Regions from separate parts of the Homo sapiens genome. Here regions 1, 3, 4 and 5 are each linked to region 2. Evidence: fine-mapped expression QTL. A gene starts in region 2. Each other region holds a variant in brackets. All regions are shown on one strand. Distances are between the middles of the regions.

Region 1 (4,629 bases), 21 kb before region 2:
ATTAGTATAGCCATTGTGGAAAACTGTGGCTCCTTAAAATGTTAAAAATGGAGGTACTATATGATCCAGCAATCCCACTGCTGGATATATACCCAAAAGAAAAGAAATCAGTAATATCAAAGAGATATCAGCACTATTCACAATAGCCAAGTCATGGAATCAACCTAGGTATCCATCAGTGGATGAATGAATGATGAAAATGTACTATATATACACAATGTAACATTATTCAGCCATAAAAAAGAACAAAATTCTGTTATTTGCAACAACATAGATGAACTTGGAGAACATTATGTCAAGTGAAATAAGCCAGCCACAGCCTGGATAAAATGGCAAAACCCCATCTCTACGAAAAATACAAAAAAATTAGCTGGGCATGGTGGCATGCACCTGTAGTCCCAGCCACTCAGGAGGCTGAGGTGGGAGGATTGCTTGAGCCTGAGAGGTTGAGGCTGCAGTAAGCCATGATTGTGCCACTGCACTCCAGCCTCGGCAACAGAGTGAGACCCTGTCTCAAAAACAAAGAAGGAAAATAAGTCCAGAACAAATATATAAAGACAGGATAGGCAAATGTATAGAGATAGAAAGTAGGTAAGTGATTACTGGGACTGGTGGAGAGGGGAGTGGAGGAGAAGATAGGTGGGGTCAGGGAGAGAAATGGGAAATGTCTGTTAATAGTTATGAAGTTTATTTCTTAGGTGATGAAAATGCTCTAAAATTGATTGTGGCAATCAATGGTTGCACAACTCTGTGAACATACTAAAACCCATTGGACTGTACACTTTAAATGGGTGAATTGTATGATATTTGAATTATATCTCAATAAAAAAGATAAATCAGCTTCAGATTAGGCAGTTTGGTTACTCAGGGTTTACCTGCACTTTCTACATTTTAATGTTTGTTTTTTGTTTTCTCTTGGATTATTTTAAATCTCCTTGCCAATGGGATGCATTCTAGTTCCCTGGGACAGAAAAATTTAACACTAACCAGAAATCCTAGATGTGGAGGTATAAGGAAAACAAAGCAATTTGAGAACATTTCACAGCCCTTTCCTTTAAATAATGTGCTCAGATAGTCAGAATCTTTTATTCTATATGAGTTTGAATGGAATAAAACTCATTACCTGATTGGCATTTTATCTTCAATGGGGCAGAAGCACCCAACAGAATTGGCCTTGGGACGTCCCTATGAGCCAGAGGCCCCTGAACCGGCTTGTTGAGCTCCTTATTGATAGCAATGAAAGCTGTGAAGGAGCTTATGACACCAGACTCAAGGCTAAGGTTCAATGCATCTTTTTTATCACTTGCTGGAGTCTCCCTGAGGCCCATGTCCTTGGTCTGGAGCAAGGACTTGGCAGCAAGGCGGTGAATGGTGAGGCTGAAAGGAAAAAAAAAAAAGTACTGAAATGTAGGGAAAGACATCCATATACCAGTTTCTCAGGGCTCCTAAAAGTTAGGAATAGAAGAGTTAAGATAAAGTCAGATAAGGGGAGAGAGAAGACTTGGGTGGTTTAGAAATAAAAAATGATTGTAGGAAAACAATTACAATGGAGCCCAGAATTAAGAGAAGAAATCTAATCCCCAAAGATGGCAGAGGAAAGAAGGAAGGAAGGAGGGAGGGAGGGAGGGAGGGAGGGAGGGAATGAAGGAAGGAAGGAAGGAAGGAAGGAAGGAAGGAAGGAAGGAAGGAAGGAAGGAAGGGAAAACTGAATTCTCACTTGACATCAGGCTTGGGTTGTAGAGGAAATGTCACCTTATCCTCAAAAGTCTTGCCCTGGAGTGTATATTTGAGGCATACTTCTCCTGTTGTCTCTGCTGCCTGCAAATTAGAGATGAGTAGAAATGACGGAACATGTAATGTTCTGATCATCCATGGAAGGATCAGAACAGGGGCAGGTACCCAAAACAATGTATGAAAATATCTGATGAAGAATCAGGTAGCCTAGGAAACCGGAGACCTGAAATGATGGGAAGGAAGTAGGCTAGCTATACTTGGCAAGTGCCGTCTCTGGCTGAGATTGAAATCCACCTACCAGCTTTAGTGGAATGGTCATGTGGTAGCTCTTTGACTAGAGGAACAAATAAGAATGGGAACTCACTGGCATCCTCCCGGTCAGCTGGGCATAGCTGATTAATCTCTGACCCCTAAAGATGACAGTCTGTTCTGGGGAAAGCATTTTAGCAGACAGACCAGGAGGCAAATGCCAGCTCAGAGAGACATCCTCTACCACAGGCTGCAGAGAGCGTTTCAGAGTCCTGAGAGCCTAATGTGGGGAAGAGAACAGAATAAACACAAATGATACAGACAATGGCAGCTACAATTAACTGGACATTTATTATGTATCAGATGTGATACATAATACATGTCATGCCTACTCCTCAATACTATTCTAGGAGATGGGCTTTATATATGAAGAAGCTTTGCATATGAATAAGCCAAAGCTGAAATATTTAGTAACGTAAATGTAAATAAAGAAAATGTTTGAGTAACGAGACCCTTGGAGAAGGGGATTAGATAAAGGTGGCACCTACTGGGAAAGAGGAGCTTAGAAATACCACCAGAGGCCGGGCGCGGTGGCTCACGCCTGTAATCCCAGCACTTTGGGAGGCCGAGGCGGGCGGATCACGAGGTCAGGAGATCGAGACCATCCCGGCTAAAACGGTGAAACCCCGTCTCTACTAAAAATACAAAAAATTAGCCGGGCGTAGTGGCGGGCGCCTGTAGTCCCAGCTACTCAGGAGGCTGAGGCAGGAGAATGGCGTGAACCC[G/A]GGAGGCGGAGCTTGCAGTGAGCCGAGATCCCGCCACTGCACTCCAGCCTGGGCGACAGAGCGAGACTCCGTCTCAGAAAAAAAAAAAAAAAAAAAAAAAAGAAATACCACCAGAGGGGTCTTCTCCTTTTGCAGAAAGATGAAATGGAATAGCAATTTACTACCTCTTCCGATCCATTAGACATATCATGATTATTCCTTCTCCTTTTCTTTGTATCTTTTGCATGGAGGATGCATGTAGTACAAAAGAGGTTCTAAAGCGCAGACCTAGAATCTCAGTCTTGACAGTCAAAGCTCTTAGTTTGTCTGTGTCTGGTCTTAAATGCAAAGGCCCAGATCCCTGTCAGCATCTTGTCTCTGAGCTTGCAGCTACTGGGACCAGATGTCATATTTCCAGATACTACAGTGGGCTTCTATTACATGAGGCCAAAAGTAGCCTGACTAAGTATACAGCCTAAGGCCTTGGGGATATAGGAACAGGTATCCTGGAGGAAAGTTGCTACCCCTGCCCTTACACAGTGTTCCCCACCCCGTTCCACTTTGGTCTGGATTGCCACCTCCAGACAGACACAGTCAGTCTGTCCCTCACCTTGGACTGCATCCTGTCTTTGCCTGTGATAAATTCTGAGGTGCCCCCTGATGCCCGGGCAATACCTTTTATTAGGCTGGTGGAGGTGCCTTCTCCAATACCAAATGAGAAACACCTGCAATTGTAACAGGACAGAGGTTAGAGGAAGGCATTAAACAGTGAAAATATAAAATTAATACATAATGGCCAAAAATACATAAGGAAATAGTCTACTTTCTTGACCAAAAGTGTAACAGCTACCATTTACTGAGCATATTCTATATTTTAGGAGGTATAAAAATGCCTTAAATCAATGATGCAATTTAATCATCACAAGACCCCTAAAAGGCAGGCTTCTGCTTCACTTTGCAGATAAGAAATGGAGGCCCAGGAAATTTAAGAAATCTTTCCAAGATCATGCAACTACTAAATGATAGCAATGTCACTGGAGCACTGATCTGTCTTACTGCAAGATCTCTCTGGCAAACTAACAGAAAGATAGAAACTAACACCAGTTCCTACCTAATGATGTGCTGGTACCATATCTCCCCTAGCAAGACTATTCTTAGAGAAAGGAAGTGTGCCTCCTGCACTTCTAAATGGAGAGTTCTTGCCCTGCCTTAGTCCATGTGCACCAAGTAACTTCTTAAACATAATGCGATTTCCCAAATAGAATTATATATAAACAAAGAATACATTGGTAGTACTAGCACAGGCGCTTTTGGAAGGCATGACAGACAGAGTTTTCATTGTAAATTAATACCCTGCAATTTTGGTTTATGTATCAGTCTTTCTTAGTGTGAGCCATCATCCCCAAGTCTAGTGGCATCAGCATTAGGATCAATGCTCTACGCTTGTAAGACTCAGGAACAGACTTCTAACTGGACCTACGTGTAACAATACTTCCTAAATACTATAGCCTGACAGCATCTTGATATCACAACCTTTAAATTTCTAACATGATCTTTGAATTGTAGCCTATGTTATAAAGTGCTGTTATATTTTTAAGGTCTTTTGTATAAAATCAAAACTAAACAATATTGGCTGGGTGTGGTGGCTCACACTTTGGGAAGCCAGTGCCAGGAGTTCAAGAGCAGCCTAGGCAACAAAGTGACAGACCCGGTCTCTAAACAATCAAACAACAACAACAAAAATATATTGATGACTAACTAGAACTCACGACAGTGCTGCATGTGGATGATAATAAAAATTAAAATATTACAATAATAGCAAAATTTTATATAGCACTTACTTTTTATCTAGCACAGTTCCTAATACTTTCCCTAAGTATAC
Region 2 (4,629 bases):
TTTTAAATGGCAGTCCCAGGTGGGGAAGGTGTAAGATTCACTGGTATCTACTAAACAGGAAATCTCTGAAACACCCTGAGGCTGGTTCAAATACCAATTCCACTTTCTCAAAAGTGTATTTAATTCACCACTCCTTGGGCATATGGAGTAGGTGTCACTAATCCCTCTGAGCCTCAGTATTTTCTTTCCAAAATGAGTAGTATAATATCCACACATCGTATGTGAATTAATACATGTGAAGTCCCTACAATAGCACATGGGCCATAGGAGGCATTTAATCAATGATGACAGACATCACTATTGTCCCTATTATTGTTGTTACTGTTAATCAATAAACCTCTGCCACCATTCACTTTGGATCATGGCATTCAGAGACGCGCTGCATGTGAGAAGCTGTGTGATTCAAGATGGACTCCTGCCACAGGCCATTTACCTTGTGGCTTTTCTTTTGGGACCCAAAATTAAAAGATACGAGTATATTTGTTTGTATCCATCCAAGATATTCTAATATATTTAAATATTATATAGGCACATAGCCTACATTTGCACCCCCACTAAACAGCACCAATAAATCAGGCTTTTCATTCCATATCTGTTTTTATTTTGAGAAATTGGATAAAAACTGAGTGTGGCAAAATGACTCACAATTCGACAGCAACGCAGAGGACAGTGGCAGGTGTGAGGAGAGGAGAGGATGCTCAGAAAAGGGCTTCTACGCAGACCTCTGACCTGGGCAAGTTCTCTGGTAGAACAGGCTGGGCTGGGGGAGGGAAGAATTTCTAATAACACATTAAGCAGAGAGCCTAAAGCAGGAGACTCACACAGGAGTAAAACAGCTGAAAGAGAAGCTCTCAGGCTGGGCAATACTCACCAAGGTGGCTAGAGTAAAAGAGAGAGAGACGCAAAGGGCACCCCTACAAGGAAATAGCCTTCGCTTCCTGATTCTAAGCTCAGAACAAATCCTCCGTTGAGGAAAACTTGCTATTCTGCACCCTTGCCCCCACTCTTCCCAGTACAAACAAAATTAGTTTGGGTCAGAATTAGTTCTGTCTCTCAGGATGGCACTTCAGAAAGGCAACTTGCAAGGCTTAGGTAGAGACTGGCCACCAAGCTGAAAGCCATGAATCTGAGGCAGCTGGGAGAATACAAGGCTTCCGGCCTAGCCAGGTAGCTGCTTCAGGAATGCAGAGTCCCAGCACCAGCCGCTCAGCAGCTAGGAGGGTGGGAGGGGAGCTGGGTGGCACCACCGGCCACACACACCCCTGCGGCCTGTGGCAGGGGTGAAGTGGAGAACTCGGAACCAGACAAGGAGGAGATTTGGGGTAAGAAGTGGGGCTTGGATAAAATCAGAGATTGATTTAACCTTTCCATTCAGTCCTAGATTTCCAATGTCCACGTATTTACAGAAGAGACTGCGTCGGTCTCTTACATTTCTATAGAGAAGGGCTTAGGGGCTGCAACTGATTGGAGTAGATGAGGCTTACAGCCTCATTTCCTCAGCTTACACTATCCTGAAACTGAGAAAACATCAATTGTCTATATCAAAGAAAGAAAGCGGGAAAAAAAGTAAAGTAAAAGAGAAGGAAAGTAGGAAGAAGGGCCTTGAGATTAGGAGATGGCTAAATCCCTCCTTCAACCTCCAAAAGATTCCCCTAAACTGCCAAACTTGCAGGAACCTTCCTGGGGATCATACATCAGGATGAAATCCTCCACCCATGGGGCGTGCAATTCAAGGAGCCCCTACAAATTTGGGGACTGGGGAAAGGGAGCTAGAATGTGGAGCTCTCAGTCTTCCAGAGCAGGGGTTGGATCCAGGCCCTGCACCGGTAGCTTGGTCCCCTACCTTCCTCTCCTGCAGCCCGGAGCGCTCTGAGTCACAGCGGAGTGAAAACAGCTGCAGTCATAATTTCCGGAAAGAACCGCCCCCTTCTAGGGACCGGTTATAAAGTAGCGACTACAAGACTAAGGGATCAACGGAAAATTATTGAACAAATAATCGAACTTTCGCTTGTTTGTATCAAAGGAAAAGTCTTCGACTTTGGAACGTTTGGTTTTTTTCTTTGCTCTTTGCTAAGGAACAATCAGAGAACAGGCAAAGAGGGCAAGGGAAAATGCTGCAACAGGAACAACAACAATGACATTAAAAACTGCATATTTTTGTAAAAGCTTAATTGCCAAAGGCTTACTGTGTCCTGGGCCCTGTTAATCAAAGCTTTATGGAGATTATATCATTGACACCTTATCTCTAATGTGAGTCATTTTCCCCCAAGTTGCCCCTCCCCTACAGCAGGGGGAAAGATAAGGAGATAGTGCAAGGCACACACATCTGCTCTAATGAGAGAAGCTCTAGCCAGGGAAGCCCAAGTCTTCCTGTCATGGGTCGCTTATGGGATCCTGAAACCAAATGTTTGGGTTAACGATGTAAGTAACTGAGAATGTCTATGCTCATTTACCTGGCTAAAGGACATTAGAAGCGATCAAGGTCCCCATGGCTTCTCTATTTCAAAACAACCTATTAAATCTGAGACTTAAAGTGTCATATTGCTGTCGAGAATCTATAGGATAAAGAATACATGATACATATGGAAAACACAGCTTGATTTTGGTCTCTGTGATGTATTTTTTGTGGATATACTTGTTATATACTGGTTATATACTTGTTTTTGTGAGATATTTGTTATATACAAATAACTCTCCCCAAGTTATTTGTTCTCTCATCTGAAACGGGGATAATGACAAACCTCCACTGATTGTTTTTGTGAGATCTAATGAATCTTAGTGGCTATAAAAGTTTTATATATATATATATATATATATATATACACACACACACACACACACACACACATTTATATACTTTATATATATACACCCACATACACATTTATATACATGGATGTGCATGCATAGATGTATATATGTGTATATATGTACACCCATGCATGTATATACAGTTACATGCATGTAATATATGCATATATAGTAAAGCATAATATAAGCACAAATTCTATTTTATCAGTACTAGGCCCTACAACCATGTTTTTTACATGTACTGAACTAATTATGAGAGGAAATTATCCTTTTCTCTGGAGAGAAATCATGTCTGGTATTGTTCCTTGTGACTGTGCCTTCTTTCCATTGGCCGAAACATCTGAGCAACAAAAGGGAGGAGCTGGAAACGTGGGCAGAGTTCATCATCTGATCCTGCTGGGCTTAGAGCTTAGCACTAAAAGTCTGCCACAGACCAGGCATGCAGCGTGGTTAGAGGGCACTGAATCAGGAAACACACAGAAGTTGCTGGTTGTTGAAAAAACAACTATGTGAAAATTCCCATAACCTAGCACAATATACACAATTAAACCGATATAGATGAGATATCTTCACTTAAAAGTCTGTCTTAGTGTTGCCAGGCATTCCTCAAGGTTGATTCTCACCTTCTTTTTTATACTAACAGGAACCCCAAGTTTCACAATGTCTATGACCATTCAGAATAAAAACATTGCCTAGCCTCCCTTAAAGCTGGTGTGGCCTTGTAACTAAGCTCTGGCCCATAGGGTACAAGAAATAAGTGCAACACCATGTCATGCCCTTTCAAAGAAAAGAGGATGGCTTCCCATTCACTTTACCCTCTTCCTGCTCATTGGTGTGAATGCAGGTAACTGAACCAGCTTGAACCATAAAGACTAGATCATAAAGCCTGGAGCATTTCCCCTAAAAATGGAGAAGCAACAAGACAGAAAGATCCTGAGCCCCTGAGACTCTCATAGAGCAAGCCACTGTATCATCACAGAATTTTACAGGATAAAGTAACAAATTTCTCCATGGTTTATAACAGCTCTTTGGGTCCTTATCTTACCCTAATACATTTGATTATGATTAATTAAAAAGTAGACTTTTAAGGAAACTATCTTCTTCAGAATATGAAAAGCACATTTGCTTATAATGGAAATAGAAATCTGCATATTATGAGAACAATATCCAATTTATTTTAGCGCCCACCACTGTAACACATGTGCCCTGAATTATGCCGGTGTGTGTTGATTATGTTGATCATAGTTTGCTACTTATTTTTCTTCAGTTCTTCTGAGAGCCATTTCCCTTCCTGAAATAAAAAGGCTGTTTGTCATAGAGTGCTTAGCATTGGTTCAGAACAGGCTTTCAATAAGTCGTTTCGGTCATTGTCTCATTTCTGTTATTCTCTTTCTTCAATGTTCTCTATCATCATGGAGTTTTAAGTGTCCAGTTCTGCTTGTTCTCTCTCCTCTGATGTTTCCATAGCAATTCACCTAAAACTTCCTGCCGTTTTTATCATACTTGAGCCCTTTATGTGCTCTTAAAATTGTAAACCTTTAAGAAAGTAAGTTTTTAAAAGTCATGAAGTTATTTGTTTAATGAATAAATACATACAAATCCCAGTGGTTGTATATACGCTTAGGTCTTGTGATTGCAATCCACTATAGATACTGGAGAATAGATTTCAAAAGCTCAAATAACAAATGCTCAGACGTGCACAAATCTTATAAGCATTTATTACATATTGGTGATAACAATTATAATTAATAGGTATAATTTTCATATGATCACCGATAACTTGGAAATTAAGTGTTTGAAGATATCACAGACAACCTG
Region 3 (4,629 bases), 43 kb after region 2:
ACAGTAGACCTTCCCCACAATTGTTTTGCTTTGTTTCTTATATATAAACAAGCATTGTACCTAAGGTGGACGTAATTCTTCCTTTTGCTTTTGGGAATGTCCTGCTCTGCCTATGGAGTGGCCATTCTTTCATTCCTTTACTTTCCTAATAAACTTGCTTTTGCTTTACTCTGTGTATTTGTCCTGAATTGTTTTTTGCACAAGATTCAAGAACCCTCTCTTGGGGTCTGGATTGTGACCCTTTTCTGATAAAACAATTTAATGTTTTATATTGAAATGTGCTAATGTTGAATTTGTAAAGATACTATCAATAAAGAAAAATACAAACAATAATTGTTTTTAATCTACTGAAATCTATCGAGCAATAACCACTCAACAATTTGGTGATCATCTTTCCACCAAAGACACACGCATATGCTACACACACAAATTTACACAAGTAAATAACATTATAGCTATGATACTATACTCTAATTTTCCTATTCCCTAAAGCTTTTTCTCACATCAGTAACAGATAGCTGCCTCAACTTGAATGACTATAAAAATTCATTTTATGAATAAGTCAAATTATTCTTAACCCATTAATAGAAATATTTTTCTTTAAGAGTTTACATTAATGAACAATCACTTTAAACTATCATCTCAACTAAGACACTTATTTCATATGTATGGTTCATTCATATGTGTATAATCTTGGTTATTTCCCTGCTTTATAAACGCAAAGGAACATAGTTATATTCTTATGTCTTTTCCCAGATTATTTTTACATCACTGTGAAAGGAAAACCTTTTTATATTACTTGTTAAAAATTTTTCTGATGGTCATAAGTTTGGGATTAAGCTTTCAATTTTGGGGCTTTCCTGCCCTCCATCAGGCTCATTAGATCAGATGTATTTCACTGCCATCATTTTCTTTTTTTCTTTTCTTTTTCTTTGGAGATGGAGACTCACTCTGTCACCAGGCTGGAGTCCAGTGGTGCGATCTCGGCTCACTGCAACCTCTGGTTCCCGGTTCAAGCTCCCGGTTCTCCTGTTCAGTCTCCTGAGTAGCTGCGGCTAGTGTTCTAATCTTTGCAAAGGTAGTTCCAAGAAGAGGAAAATAGTTCTGTCTAAAAGAATTCTTTGGAGTATTTATAGTTTCAGAAAAATAGAAATTTATGTGTAAAAACTGAAACTAAGGTAACATATTATTAACTAAAACAACCAGATAGCAAAACATATTTTAGAGATGAAGCATTACATTTTAGAGGACGTAGAACAATTTTTCCAATCAAGGTGAGTGTCCTAAAAGTTTGCATTATTAAGGAAAGTTCAAGGGGACGATTTTATAAAAATTATAAAGAAAAGAAGTGCAACACCGTACATTTTCTCAAGGCCCATAGTTTTGTGAATGTTTTCCTACATCATTTTATCAAAAAGGTTCTGACAATTCCAAATGCTATTTACTGCTATGGTGTTACGGGAAGGGGAAATCTTTTCTCTTTCATTTTTCTGAGATTCCTAATTGGTAGCAATTGTTAATAAAAAAGGCAAAAAATCTTAAGACTAAGATCTGGAGATAAGCAAGTTTTCACAGAAAGAAACTTAAAACTTTGAAAATAGTGAAAAGCGCAGGAGGAATTTTAACAAATGCAAAATGAGGAATATAATAGGATGTTTTTACTTGCAACCAGGAATTAAAATGGAGGAGAAAGTAAGTTGTTTCTTACCTCTATCAGTTTCAAGTTTACTTAGCGTTTTTGATTTGGAGAAGAAAGGAAAAGATATACGTCAGAGATCTTTTAGGTAAAGCAAAATGAAACAAAAATATGTATGAGTTATGGGAAAATAGAAGAAAGAAAAAGGAGGCCGCAAGCAGTGGCTCACGCCTGTAATCCCAGCATTTTGGGAGGCCGAGGCGGGCAGATCATGAGGTCAGGAGATCAAGATCAGCCTGGCCAACACGGTGAAACCCTGTC[C/T]CTAGTAAAAATACAAAAAAATTTAGCCAAGCGTGGTGGCGCACGCCTGTGATCCTAGCTACTCGGGAGGCTGAGGTAGGAGAATTGCTTGAACCTGGGAGGTGGAGGTTGTAGTTAACAGAGATCGTTCCACTGCACTCTAGCCTGGGTGACAAGAGAGAGACTCCGTCTCAAAATAAATAAATAAATAAATAAATAAATAAATAAATAAATAAATAAAACAAGAAAGAAAGAAAAAGGAAAAGATGTGGAAAAGGTAGAAATAAGTCAGTGTATTCCTGCGGGACTACATAAGACAAAAGGACAAGCACTTCTCTCTTTCCTTCTCCATCACAAACAAACCTTTCCGTCAGATTTAGTGTAAGTTTTATCAAACTGTATGTCACAGAATAGTCAGAATATCCTGTAGCTGGGAAATTCCTTTTATTCTGTTTTCTTTTGTTGAAAGCAAAACTCGTATCACGTTATTAATGCACAATTTCCTGGGTTAAAATTAACTTTGGGGACTCCCTGCCAAAGGAATTCAAGCCCCGCTCTATGGAAGGAAAAAAAAAGAAGTCAAATTCCCTTCTCTGCTAGCTCAGAAGAGGAATGATGAAGGTACGTGCTGAAGCCGATCTGTCGGCCACGTGCTTTTAGCACCAAGTGGTTCTTGTGCAGTCTGTAAACACAGGCAGGGTCCTGTGACCTTTGCCAGCTGTATTTCCATCAAGACTTTCTCCATTCTTACCTGAAACACCTTGTGAACCCAATGGCTGTTTACACACAAAGAGTCGTGGGTCTACTGACACCAATTGGTAAAAATGGTAGCAATTGACTGGTTATTTAACTGGCTCTCTAGAAAGACTATAGCACATGGTGGTGCCATCAGAAATCATAAGCATCACAGACCTCTCTAACACAGTTCTAATAATAATTTCAACCATTCTTTATCCTATTGATTCAGCTCCAGGGTCTTTATTGCAAGCTACTTGTTAGTGAAGAGGAATCTGGTTGTCGGTGCCCCAATAGTGCCATCTGCCGGCCGATGTTAGGTATTTCACCTTAATTCGGAGTCCTGTTTCAAGAGCGGGATTTCAAAATCAAGAGTACTACTGGAAATGGAAATATCATTGCCCTACCAAAATCAGAAATTAGAAGACCTCTAGACACTTTTTTTCCCCAAAGTCATGAACATCTTCCTGTAAATGAAAATTCCTGTAATGGTACACAATTTGTAGATGTGAAAGAATCCTCTAAAATGATCTAGTTCAACCTCTTCATTTTACAAATATTAGAACTAAAGCCATAGAGACAAAATAATTTATTCAGGACCACACAGGCTATTATTAGTGGAACCACTGTTAGAACCCCGGTATTTTGCTGATTCACACATAAGTGCTTTTTAACATGCTATAAGCAGGAAAGATATTTATAGTCTTTCCCACTTCCTCATCTGAGGCCACTATGAAAGAACACTACTATTACTATTACTTTCCTACGCCTCCACCATGAGAACAGTCACACACACACACGCACACACACACACACACACACTCTCATAGTCACAAAAGGATATTCTACTTATAATCAGAAATCCTCTTGAAACAAGAATTAACATTCAAAATGTGAAAACCTACAAAAATAAAATTATTAAAAATAATTACAGCCTTTTTTTAAACTTTATTCTGACAAGAGCATTCTAAAACCTTCAGCAAATAGATATGTCAGCAAGTAAACAGTTTTAAAAATGGAACTAGGCCAGGTGTGGTGGCTCACACCTGTGATCCAAGCACGTTGGGAGGCCAAGGCAGGAGGATCACTCAAGCCCAGGAGTTTGAGACCAGCCTGGGCAACATGGTAAAACCTTGTCTCTACAGAAAATATAAAACTTAGCTGGGCATGGTGTCACATGCCTGTAGTTTCAGCTACTTGAAGGCTGAGGTGAGAGGATCGATTGAGCCCAGAAGGTTGAGGCTGCAGTGAACTAGGATTGTATCTCTGCATTCTAGCCCGAGAGACAGAGCAAGAACCTCAAAAAAGTAACTAAACTTTATTTTTGTATAATTAAACAAATTTGGTTAGGGCTCCATTTTATTCCATAACATGAAGTAGGGTGTGTGAATATGATAGCTGTGACACAAACTATGCTGGCGGTGTAAGATTTCTGCTCTACGGAAGGTAGCTAAATAGACATGAGGGACCAAGCAGAGTGGGTTCTCCACTGGGAGAAAATGTGAACTGGCTAACATGTAATGACCTTTTCACTATAATTTCATAATTCAATTTTTCTGCACAGTACTGATATGGGAGGGGGCAAGGAAGGGCTGGGAGGAGAACGGCGGGTCCCTGGGGAGGGCTCCACCCCTGGACCTGTGCCCATGGAACTAGGGGAGAACAGGCACTCCTGCTTTCAGGTCCAAATGTTGCATTTCCCAAGACCACCCTGGCCCACCATGTCCCCATCCTGTGCCTATAAAAACCCTGAGACCCTAGTGCGCACGGACACAGCAGCTGGACATCGTGAGAAACACATCAGCAGGAGAACACAGAAGCGGCTAGACATCAAGAGGAACACTTCGGTTGAAGAGCACACCGAACGGCACCAGCAGACGCCGGCAGGCCATTGACCAGTGGAATGAAGCGGAGTTTAGCTGGAGCTGTCAGAGGAGAGTCACGCCGCTGAGCTGACT
Region 4 (4,629 bases), 220 kb before region 2:
CCAACCCAAATGTCCAATAACGATAGACTGGATTAAGAAAATGTGGCACATATACACCATGGAATACTATGCAGCCATAAAAAATGATGAGTTCATGTCCTTTGTAGGGACATGGATGAAACTGGAAACCATCATTCTCAGCAAACTATCGCAAGGACAAAAAATCAAACACCGCATGTTCTCACTCATAGGTGGGAATTGAACAATGAGAACACATGGACACAGGCAGGGGAACATCACACTCTGGGGACTGTTGTGGGGTCGGGGGAGGGGGTAGGGATAGCATTGGGAGATATACCTAATGCTAAATGACGAGTTAATGGGTGCAGCACACCAACATGGCACATGTCTACATATGTAACAAACCTGCACATTGTGCACATGTACCCTAAAACTTAAAGTGTAACAATAAAAAAAAAAAAAAAAAAGCCAGAGATGAAAAGTTTCTTAAGGACTAGTAAGTATAACCTACTTTGCAGCTTTAAACAGCATAGATTAAGCTTTTTTTTGGTCAAATAGTTTTCTTATTTATTTTTACACACAAACCAGCACATAAAAGAAGGACATTTATTTATTACATGGATGGGAAAGTGAAGCTCTTCATGGTAATGATTTACTTAGTCACACAACTTCTTAATGAAAAAGTCTAGACTAAACATTTTGCCTTCTGATTTCAAGTCCACTGCTCTTCTTAGTACATTTTGTTTCTGTTTTACTATTTTTATTTCAGTTAATATGGAATATAAGAAAACATTTCTAATTTGGAAATTGACTGTGCTTTGTTCCAGAATGATACATAAATGTCTAACAGAATGTGTATCGCTTCTTTTATGCTTGTTTAGGAAAACAGTTTGACGGTTCTTATTGTTGGGAAAGAGGACATCTTTTAAGCTAGTATGAAGTTAATGGGTGCAGCACACCAACATGGCACATGTATACATATGTAACAAACCTGCATATTGGGCACATATACCCTAAAACTTAAAGTATAATAAAAAAAAGAAATCTTAAATTGAGTCCATAAAGTAAAATATGGCACACTTTTAATAATCAATATAAGAATTATCCAATGTATGGCATATCTCAAATTGGATGAATTCTTTATCTGCAAATATGTTTCTTGGTATTTGTGGCTTCTTCATCTATGAAACTAAATTAATTACTGATTAATTAATTTTTTTTACTGTTAGCCTCAAAATACATTTTTTTTTATTATACTTTAAGTTTTAGGGTACATGTGCACATTGTGCAGGTTAGTTACATATGTATACATGTGCCATGCTGGTGCGCTGCACCCACTAACTCGTCATCTAGCATTAGGTATATCTCCCAATGCTATCCCTCCCCCCTCCCCCCACCCCACCACAGTCCCCAGAGTGTGATATTCCCCTTCCTGTGTCCATGTGATCTCATTGTTCAATTCCCACCTATGAGTGAGAATATGCGGTGTTTGGTTTTTTGTTCTTGCGATAGTTTACTGAGAATGATGGTTTCCAATTTCATCCATGTCCCTACAAAGGACATGAATGAACTCATCATTTTTTATGGCTGCATAGTATTCCATGGTGTATATGTGCCACATTTTCTTAATCCAGTCTATCATTGTTGGACATTTGGGTTGGTTCAAAATACATTTAAATGTTAAACGAATACTCTTTCTTAAAGAATATATGCTAAAGATAATTTAAAAAAGTCAAACAGGAGGTGAGTTTTTCGGAAAATAAAAAAATGACTTTGAAATGTTATCAGGATCATTTATTTGATAGATCTAAGCATGGGAGTGAAAGGACTCAAAGAGACACACGGCTGATAAATGAGATCCCTCTGTAGAGAATGGTCAGTAAGACTGTAGAAACCACTTTCATTTCCTGTTATTTTTAAATTTTTTAAATTATTTTTAATTTTGGCGAGTAATCTGAATTTGTATTCTATTCTGTGGAGCACCGTATCTTGTACTCTCCATTAAGCTTCGATAACAATTATAACATGCACA[T/G]GGTGTTATTATTTGGGGAATGTAAATGGAAAAGCTGTGGCCACATTTGTGAGGAATTAGGTAGAGAAGGAATAGCAACAACTTCTTGATAAAAAAAATAATGAGTGGTGTTTGAAATTCTACTTAGGAAGACACAATTTAGAAAGTAAAATGATGGAAAATGAAATCCCTTACTTAGAATTCTCCTCTCCTTGGAGGCTCTAGGAAATTGTGGAGATCATAGGATTTATCTTAGTGGTGTAAAAGATGACATTGCTTGATATTAATTCCAGAGGGCTGGGAGTCCTAGGAACAGCCAAATCACACTTGCTTTTCTTGGTTTTCATGTGTTCCTTGCATATGGATTTTAAGCTATGAAAACCTCAAACTGTAGCTGAGAGAGATATGATAATTTGAAAAAAAATTGATTTACCAAATTTAACAAATCGTATCAGTCTTTTCTGGAATAGGAGGGTAGATTATTTTTCCTTTGGGAAATCAGACAAAAATATGACTACTCAAAAATCATCAATCTTATATAGAAATGGACAACTATTTTCTAACATAACTATAACGATATTTACTATTTTTCCATTTTATAATCTCTACTCAATATTTTGGTATTAAAAAATTCATCCTAACTTCTTTGTTGGCTTATTGTTTTTGATGTTCAGCATTACTAAATTTTTGACTTATGGTTTGAAATGGCTGCTCATTCCTGATTGCTGATCCTGGTATCAACATGCCTGATTTAACCCTTAACAAATTCTATTCTTACAAAATAGCTGAAGTTGGTTGGAGGTTTATTTTTACCATTTCTTTTATTTGCTGTCCCTTTTGATAAAATTATTTTCCTTAGTTAAAAAATGTATTTAAATAAGTAAATAATATCTGTGCTAGTTGGTACTCGGTGGACATTTCAGAGGTGTGTCCATACTTTATGTATTTTATCACTGTTTGAAATGGCCAAAGAGGTGGATTAAACTGGGTCACTGATCTTTCATGTGAAGACCCTCAAAATGCAGATGAAATCAGTTTTATTTTCAGAAAAGATAAACTTAAAAATATGTTCTAATCTAAAACTGAGAAATCCCATAAGTCTGGCACAGTCGGTTTTTCTCTCTAGCGTCAGGACATGTCACTCACTGTTAATTAAGCTTTGCACCAGATCAAGCATGTAGTTTATCTGCAGGCTTTGTTGTGCAAAAGAAATACTTTCTTTATTTTTTTTTTTTTCTGAGACGGAGTCTTGCTCTGTCACCCAGACTGGAGTGCAGTAGTGATCTCGGCTCACTGCAACCTCTGCCGCCCAGGTTCAAGCGATTCTCCTGCCTCAGCCTCCCAAGTAGCTGGGATTACAGGCATGTGCCATCACGCCTGGCTAATTTTTGTATTTTTAGTAGAGACAGGGTTTCACCATGTTGTCCAGGCTGGTCTCAAACTCCTGACCTCATGATCCACCAGCCAAAGTGCTGGGGTTACAAGCATGAGCTCCCGCACCCTGCCAAGAAATACCTTTAAACATTAAGTTATCACTCATTGATAGAAGCGTTCCCTTTGAGGGCAGAGACTTAATCGTCCTCAGTGAGGAGGAGGCTGGTGGAATCACTTGCACTGTTTAAAGTCTTTCTGCCATAGAGTTGAATTAACCCACTACAAACATCAATATAGAGACGTGTCCAGGTGTTGTAGTTTGTCTTTGGAGGAGAGTTGTGCACAGTTTCCTCTACACTGTCCCATCTGTCAGTCCCTGTGCTCCTCAGGAAGAAGTGGGAGGTAAATGAGCAAGGGAATCCCAGATTCAGTCCCACGGATGGTAGGTGTGGTGCTCAGAGATGTTGGTGGCTTGTTGTAGATTACAACATACAGGTGGTAGAGCTGGGATCAGGACTCGGGTGTTGGATTCTAAATTGATCAGGATTTTATTTTCTTTTTAATTATACAAAATTTTTCTACTTTAAAAATCAGTTAATTATGAATATTATTTTTAGTAAATAAAAATGTCTTGAAATACAAATAAAAGCAAAATACTCAAGAAAAAATGTCTTACGAGTATTCTTCATATTTCATATTTCATAGTTCTGTTGTTCAATTTAGAATACGTGAGTATGTTCTTATTTTCTTCTGGCCAATACAATAAATAAAAAAACAAGAATGGCCTAGATAAATCCTGATTTTTATTGGTTCTTACTAAGTTCCAGGGTGAGCAGTACATTTTTACATTTAATGTCTTATTTAATCTCACATTGATGATAATTGGCAGACACTGATATAATGATAGTTATATCATAGCAGTAATCTCTGCCACACTGGTATATAATGATATAACTATCATTATATACCAGTGTGGCAGAGATTACTGCTGTTCAATCTTCCTCCAAAACATACATTTCCCAGTCTTTCTTGCAGTGTGCTCTTGCATGTGACTGAGTTCCAGACGTGATGCACACTGTTTCAAGGCAAATGTGTGCCATTTCCACCTTCTCTTTGTCCTTCTCTGAGCAGGATACAGATGACAAAGATGCTCTCGTTAGTTATAAAGTTATAAAGCAAAGCCACACAATCAGGATGGGGAATGTAAAAATAGATGGAGCTACAATCAAGACGCAGCACATGGCGGGCCCTGGGGGTGCTGGTGATTTTTTACTTATAGATCT
Region 5 (4,629 bases), 35 kb before region 2:
AATTGTATCTGTAACATTCATTTTAATGGTTTTATCTATTAGTGATTACAGATTCTCCCAAAATCAGATAATTCAGCTAATTTATTAATAAAGTATTATAATCTTTGTTCTTAATATTCAAAACAAGTAGCTATTTCACATTTTTTATTTTTAAAAGCAAAAAATAATAATACTTTCAATCATAGAGTCTCTGTATGCAGTTGAAGTTGTTACTAACTTAAAATAGATGGTTATAAATACAAGCTATTTTTATGAAAGCCTTAAGATAACCACAAAGAAAAGTCTCAAAACATAAAGAGAAAATAATCAAAGCAAATTGCTACCAAAAAAAAATCAAATACAGGAAGAAAGCAAGAGAAGAACAAGCCAACTACAAAACAAACAGAAATCAATTAAAATGGCAGTGATAAGTCCTCACTTATCAATAGTTATTTTAAATGTAAATGAAATAAATTCTCCAATCAAAAGACAGAGTGATCATTTTTATTTGTCTATTGTACCTCAGTAAAGCAGAAAACATGCTTGTAAGCTTAAGCGTCTTTACCCTAAAAATCCACTGAATGTTAAACTGTTAATTACAGTACCTCAAAAAAGAATTAAAGTGAGTGAATGGATTTCACAGTACATAAACTACACTTCACTAAGCTGTTTTTTTTTTAAAGTGAAATAAAGACTAAAAAAGGCATGGATTCTAAAGTCTATATAGAGCTTGATCGCTGACAAAGTATATATATATACTTTTAAATATATATATATTTAAAAGTAAGCCTGACTATATTTCTATACAATTCCACTTTCAGCTTTATGACTATGCTTATTATTATTTAAGAAGAATTGCCTAACATTATACCCTCATCCCTACCTGAGACTCTGTCTATTTATTGACCCTCACTGCATTACTGAATTCTTCCCCACACCTCACCTCATTTTCATATCTCACCATTAAGGATGTCTGTTTGTTACATCACTTAGTAATAAAAACTGGTTTATGTGCAAAACAAACAAACCCAAACTTTTAACTTTGGATAGACCACAATAGAAAAAAGAATGTTTTCTACCTCTGAAATTCCAAAAAGTACAGTTCTGTAAATGAAGGGTCAGTGAAGTGTGGAGATTTGGTAGATCAGACTACATGGAGGCCAGTTTCAACTATAACATGCAAAGAGTTTGGAAACCATCACTCTCACCATTACCACAAGAAAAAGCTGAACAAACATGATATGGTTTGGATTTGTGTCCCCACCCAAATCTCAGGTCGAATTGTAATCCCAGTGTGGGAGGTAGGCCTGGTGGGAGGTGATTGGATGATGGGGGTGGATTTCCCCATTTGGTGCTGTTCTTGCGACAGAGTTCTCACGAGTCCTGGTTGTTTAAAAGTGGGTAGCACCTCCTTCCTCTTTCTCGTCTTCCTGCTTTGGCCACATGAAGACACCAGCTGCTTTGCCTTCCATCATGATTCTAAGTTTCCCGAGGCCTCCCCAAAAGCTGCTATGCTTCTGGTATAGCCTGCCAAACTGTGAACCAATTAAACCTTTTATTTATAAATTACCCAGTCTCAGGTTTTCTTTTTATAGCAATGCAAGAATGGAATAATACAAAACTCATTTATCTGTACCCTTTAGAAACTGAGAACACAGGTAAATAGTCATTCTGAAATCCTGAGAGACAGGTGACTTCAGAGTCACTGCTGACATTTACAAACCTGGAAGAGAATCTTTGGGATGGAATATAGACAAATAGAAACTTCCTAAACTTAAATGTAAAGATAAAAACAAAAACCAAATAAAAAACAAACACACATTCACATGGCTATATAAAGAATCTCTGGAATGGAAGATAGACCAATAGAAACTTCCTAAACTTAAATGTAAAGATATAAACAAAAACAAAATAAAAAACAAACACATAGGAAAAACAGAGCAGAACATTCAAAACTTACAGGATAATTTCAAACAGTGTAACATGCAATTGAAATACAAGAAAAAACTAAGCAGAAAAATAGTTGAAGTTATAGCAAAAATTTTCCAAAATTAA[T/C]GAAAAGCACAAAATTACAGATTCAGAATGTTCAAATAACACCAAAAGGATAAATACAAAAGGCCCTACATTTACAAATATAATATTCAAACTGCAGAAAACCAAAGACAAAGAGAAAATCCCAAAAGTCTGCGGGGCAGGAGGGGGAGAACACTTTACCTATAGAGGAAAAAGAATAACAGCATATTTCTTGCCAAAAACTATTCATGCTAAAAGAGATTGAAGTAAAATATTTAAAGTGTTAAAAGACAAGACGACTGGACGCAGTGGCTCATGCCTGTAATCCTAGCACTTTGGGAGGCCAAGGTAGGTGGATCACAAGGTCAGGAGATCGAGATCATTCTGGCTAACACAGTGAAACCCCGTCTCTACTAAAAATAAAAAAAATTAGCCAGGTGTGGTGGCATGTGCCTGTAGTCCCAGCTACTCGGGAGGCTGAGGCAGGAGAATCACTTGAACCCAGGAGGTGGAAGTTGCAGTGAGCCGAGATCACGCCATTGCACTCCAGCCTGGGTGACAGAGCGAGAATCTGTCTCAAAAAAAAATAGACACACACACACACACATACACACACACACACGGAGCTATAAGTTCAGCACAATTATGCTTCAAAAGTGAAGAAGAAATAAGGACTTTCCCAGACAAAAAGAAAAACTAAGGGAATCCATTGCCCACAGATCTGTTCTACAAGAAGTTTTAAGACAAATTCTTCCGGAAGAAGAAAAAGGATACAGGTAAGAAACTCAGATCTATGCAAAGAAAGGAAATGTCAGGAAGAAATAAATAAAAGTGAAATATGTATTTTCATTTTCTTATTAATCGATCTGAAAGATAACTGTTTAAAGTTATGATAGTAACAATTAGGTAGTTAAAATATAGACATAAGTGACATGAATGGCAGCAATGTCATAGTGGATGGGAAGGAATTAGGAATACTCTGTTATAAGGTAACTGCACTACATGTAAAGTGATATAGTGTAACTTGAAGGTGGGCTTAAATTAGTGATAAATGCATATTGCAAACCCCAGAGCTAAAACTAAAAAAATTCTTAAGAAATATGATGGATATATTGAGTGGAGATAAAATGAAATCACACAAAATGCCTGGTTAAAGTGAGAAAAGGCAAAAATGAAAAAATAAAAGAAAAAAATGCAATAAATAGTAAACAGTTGACAAACATGGTAGATATTAACCTAATTTTATCAATAATTACTCTAAATATAGATGATATGGGTCGATAATTTAAAAGTAGTGATTGCCAGAGTGGATTAAAAGCAAACAAAAACAAATAAATAAGACCCAACCACATGTTGTTTCCAAAAATCCACTTTAAATAAAAAGACTCATATAGGCTAAAAGTGAAGGGATGGAGAAAGATACACCCTGCCAAAACCAATCAGCAGAAAGCTGCAGTAGTTACGTAAATTTCAGACAAAGCCAACTTCAGAACAACAACAACAAAAATCAGGAATAAAGTTGAGCATTAAATAATGATAAAAGAGTCAATTTTCCAAGGATGTATGATAATTTTAAATGTATATGCACTTAGGAGAATATCAAAATATATGAGGTAAAAACTGATAAAATACACAGTTCACTGCATGGGTTTTTTTTTTTGGTTTTCTCCTGGTCAATCAGATACTCCAGAAAGCAGATGGACTGTTTTTAAGGAAGGAATTGCTGTGAGTTGGGAGAGGAAGAGCAGATGCTCAGTGACCCTGAGTGGGACTGTGTTAGAGTTGGGGAAGACGGAGGATGGATTTCATTAGTAAGTCTGTGTAGAACAGAGAACCCTCCAGGGGAGCTCCTGGCCTGTTTGAGTGGAAGAATCTTGAGGGAATGGTATCTGCCACTTTTCCTGTGGCCAAGTCTGCTGCTGTGGGGGAAACAAGCACTAGATAAAGGCAACTAATGGGAGATGAGAACAGCTTCTCTCCTGGGCTCCTTGCCTGGACCACCAGTTTCTGAAATTACAGATGGTTCTTTATACTTTCCCAAAACATAAAGCATCAGACTTGAAATGGGGTTTCAACAAATGTGCCAAAATGCCATTTGCTGATTATGAAGACTGACACTTGTTTAGATTCGAGGAATTTACAGTTGGCACAACATTTCACTGTGCAGGAGCCCAAATGGAAAAATAAAACCACGCCACTTTAAAACTGTAGTTGTCTTATTTTAAAGAGGTCAAAAGACAGGTTGATAATTTTTTTTTTGTTTCTTTTAGTTCGTTTAGTTTTTGTTTTAGAACGCCCCGCACTAAGTCCACAAGCCCCAGTCTGGAAGTTGAAGGGTGAGAAAAAAGGAGGTAAACGATAAGCGCTCCGCATAATAAATGTAAAGTCACAGCATTGTGTGCACAGAGGTTAACTATACAAGTTTCACGGTCCTTAAGAAACTATTTTCTGAAATTACATAGGTAGGGCCTATCTAGATGGCAGGCTTGGATATAAGCCTATTTCATGAAAATATTAAGCCTTTACTTTTCAAACTTCAATGTGCATGCATGATACCTGGGAGCCTTGTTAAATAAAGTAGTTCCTGGTATCGATTAAAATTCTGCATTTCTAAAAAGCTGCATTTCTAACAACCCT

Which allele goes with the higher level. Alleles are on the strand shown, and positions count from the first base shown. SD is a standard deviation of normalised expression in the study named. Not every link is listed here.
In carriers of allele G in region 1, the expression in iPS cells of the gene that starts at base 1,876 in region 2 tends to be lower than with A alone (moderate effect, 0.51 SD a copy in HipSci).

Evidence for each region. PIP is the estimated chance that this variant, and not a neighbour inherited with it, causes the effect.
Region 1: its variant is the best candidate, but not a certain one, in a credible set for the expression of VWA5A in iPS cells (HipSci, PIP 0.60).
Region 3: its variant is the best candidate, but not a certain one, in a credible set for the expression of VWA5A in whole blood (INTERVAL, PIP 0.77).
Region 4: its variant is the best candidate, but not a certain one, in a credible set for the expression of VWA5A in whole blood (INTERVAL, PIP 0.58).
Region 5: its variant is the best candidate, but not a certain one, in a credible set for the expression of VWA5A in blood mononuclear cells (TOPMed, PIP 0.89).

Annotation. Positions count from the first base shown.
Region 1 is chr11:124,133,763-124,138,391 of GRCh38, reverse strand. VWA5A (von Willebrand factor A domain containing 5A) reads right to left here. Exons shown (of 19, transcript NM_001130142.2): 12 at 3,358-3,472; 13 at 2,099-2,263; 14 at 1,718-1,818; 15 at 1,124-1,377. Among named protein-coding and RNA genes, the nearest start is that of VWA5A, 21 kb to the right of the region's middle. The variant G/A (reference allele first, on the strand shown) is at 2,769.
Region 2 is chr11:124,112,697-124,117,325 of GRCh38, reverse strand. VWA5A (von Willebrand factor A domain containing 5A) reads right to left here and starts at 1,876. Exons shown (of 19, transcript NM_001130142.2): 1 at 1,844-1,876; 2 at 646-760.
Region 3 is chr11:124,069,881-124,074,509 of GRCh38, reverse strand. No RefSeq gene overlaps it. Among named protein-coding and RNA genes, the nearest start is that of OR10G7, 31 kb to the right of the region's middle. The variant C/T (reference allele first, on the strand shown) is at 1,958.
Region 4 is chr11:124,332,955-124,337,583 of GRCh38, reverse strand. No RefSeq gene overlaps it. Among named protein-coding and RNA genes, the nearest start is that of OR8D2, 15 kb to the right of the region's middle. RefSeq lists a silencer at 3,575-3,773. The variant T/G (reference allele first, on the strand shown) is at 1,994.
Region 5 is chr11:124,147,562-124,152,190 of GRCh38, reverse strand. VWA5A (von Willebrand factor A domain containing 5A) reads right to left here. Exons shown (of 19, transcript NM_001130142.2): 19 at 4,470-4,629. Among named protein-coding and RNA genes, the nearest start is that of OR10D3, 33 kb to the left of the region's middle. The variant T/C (reference allele first, on the strand shown) is at 2,035.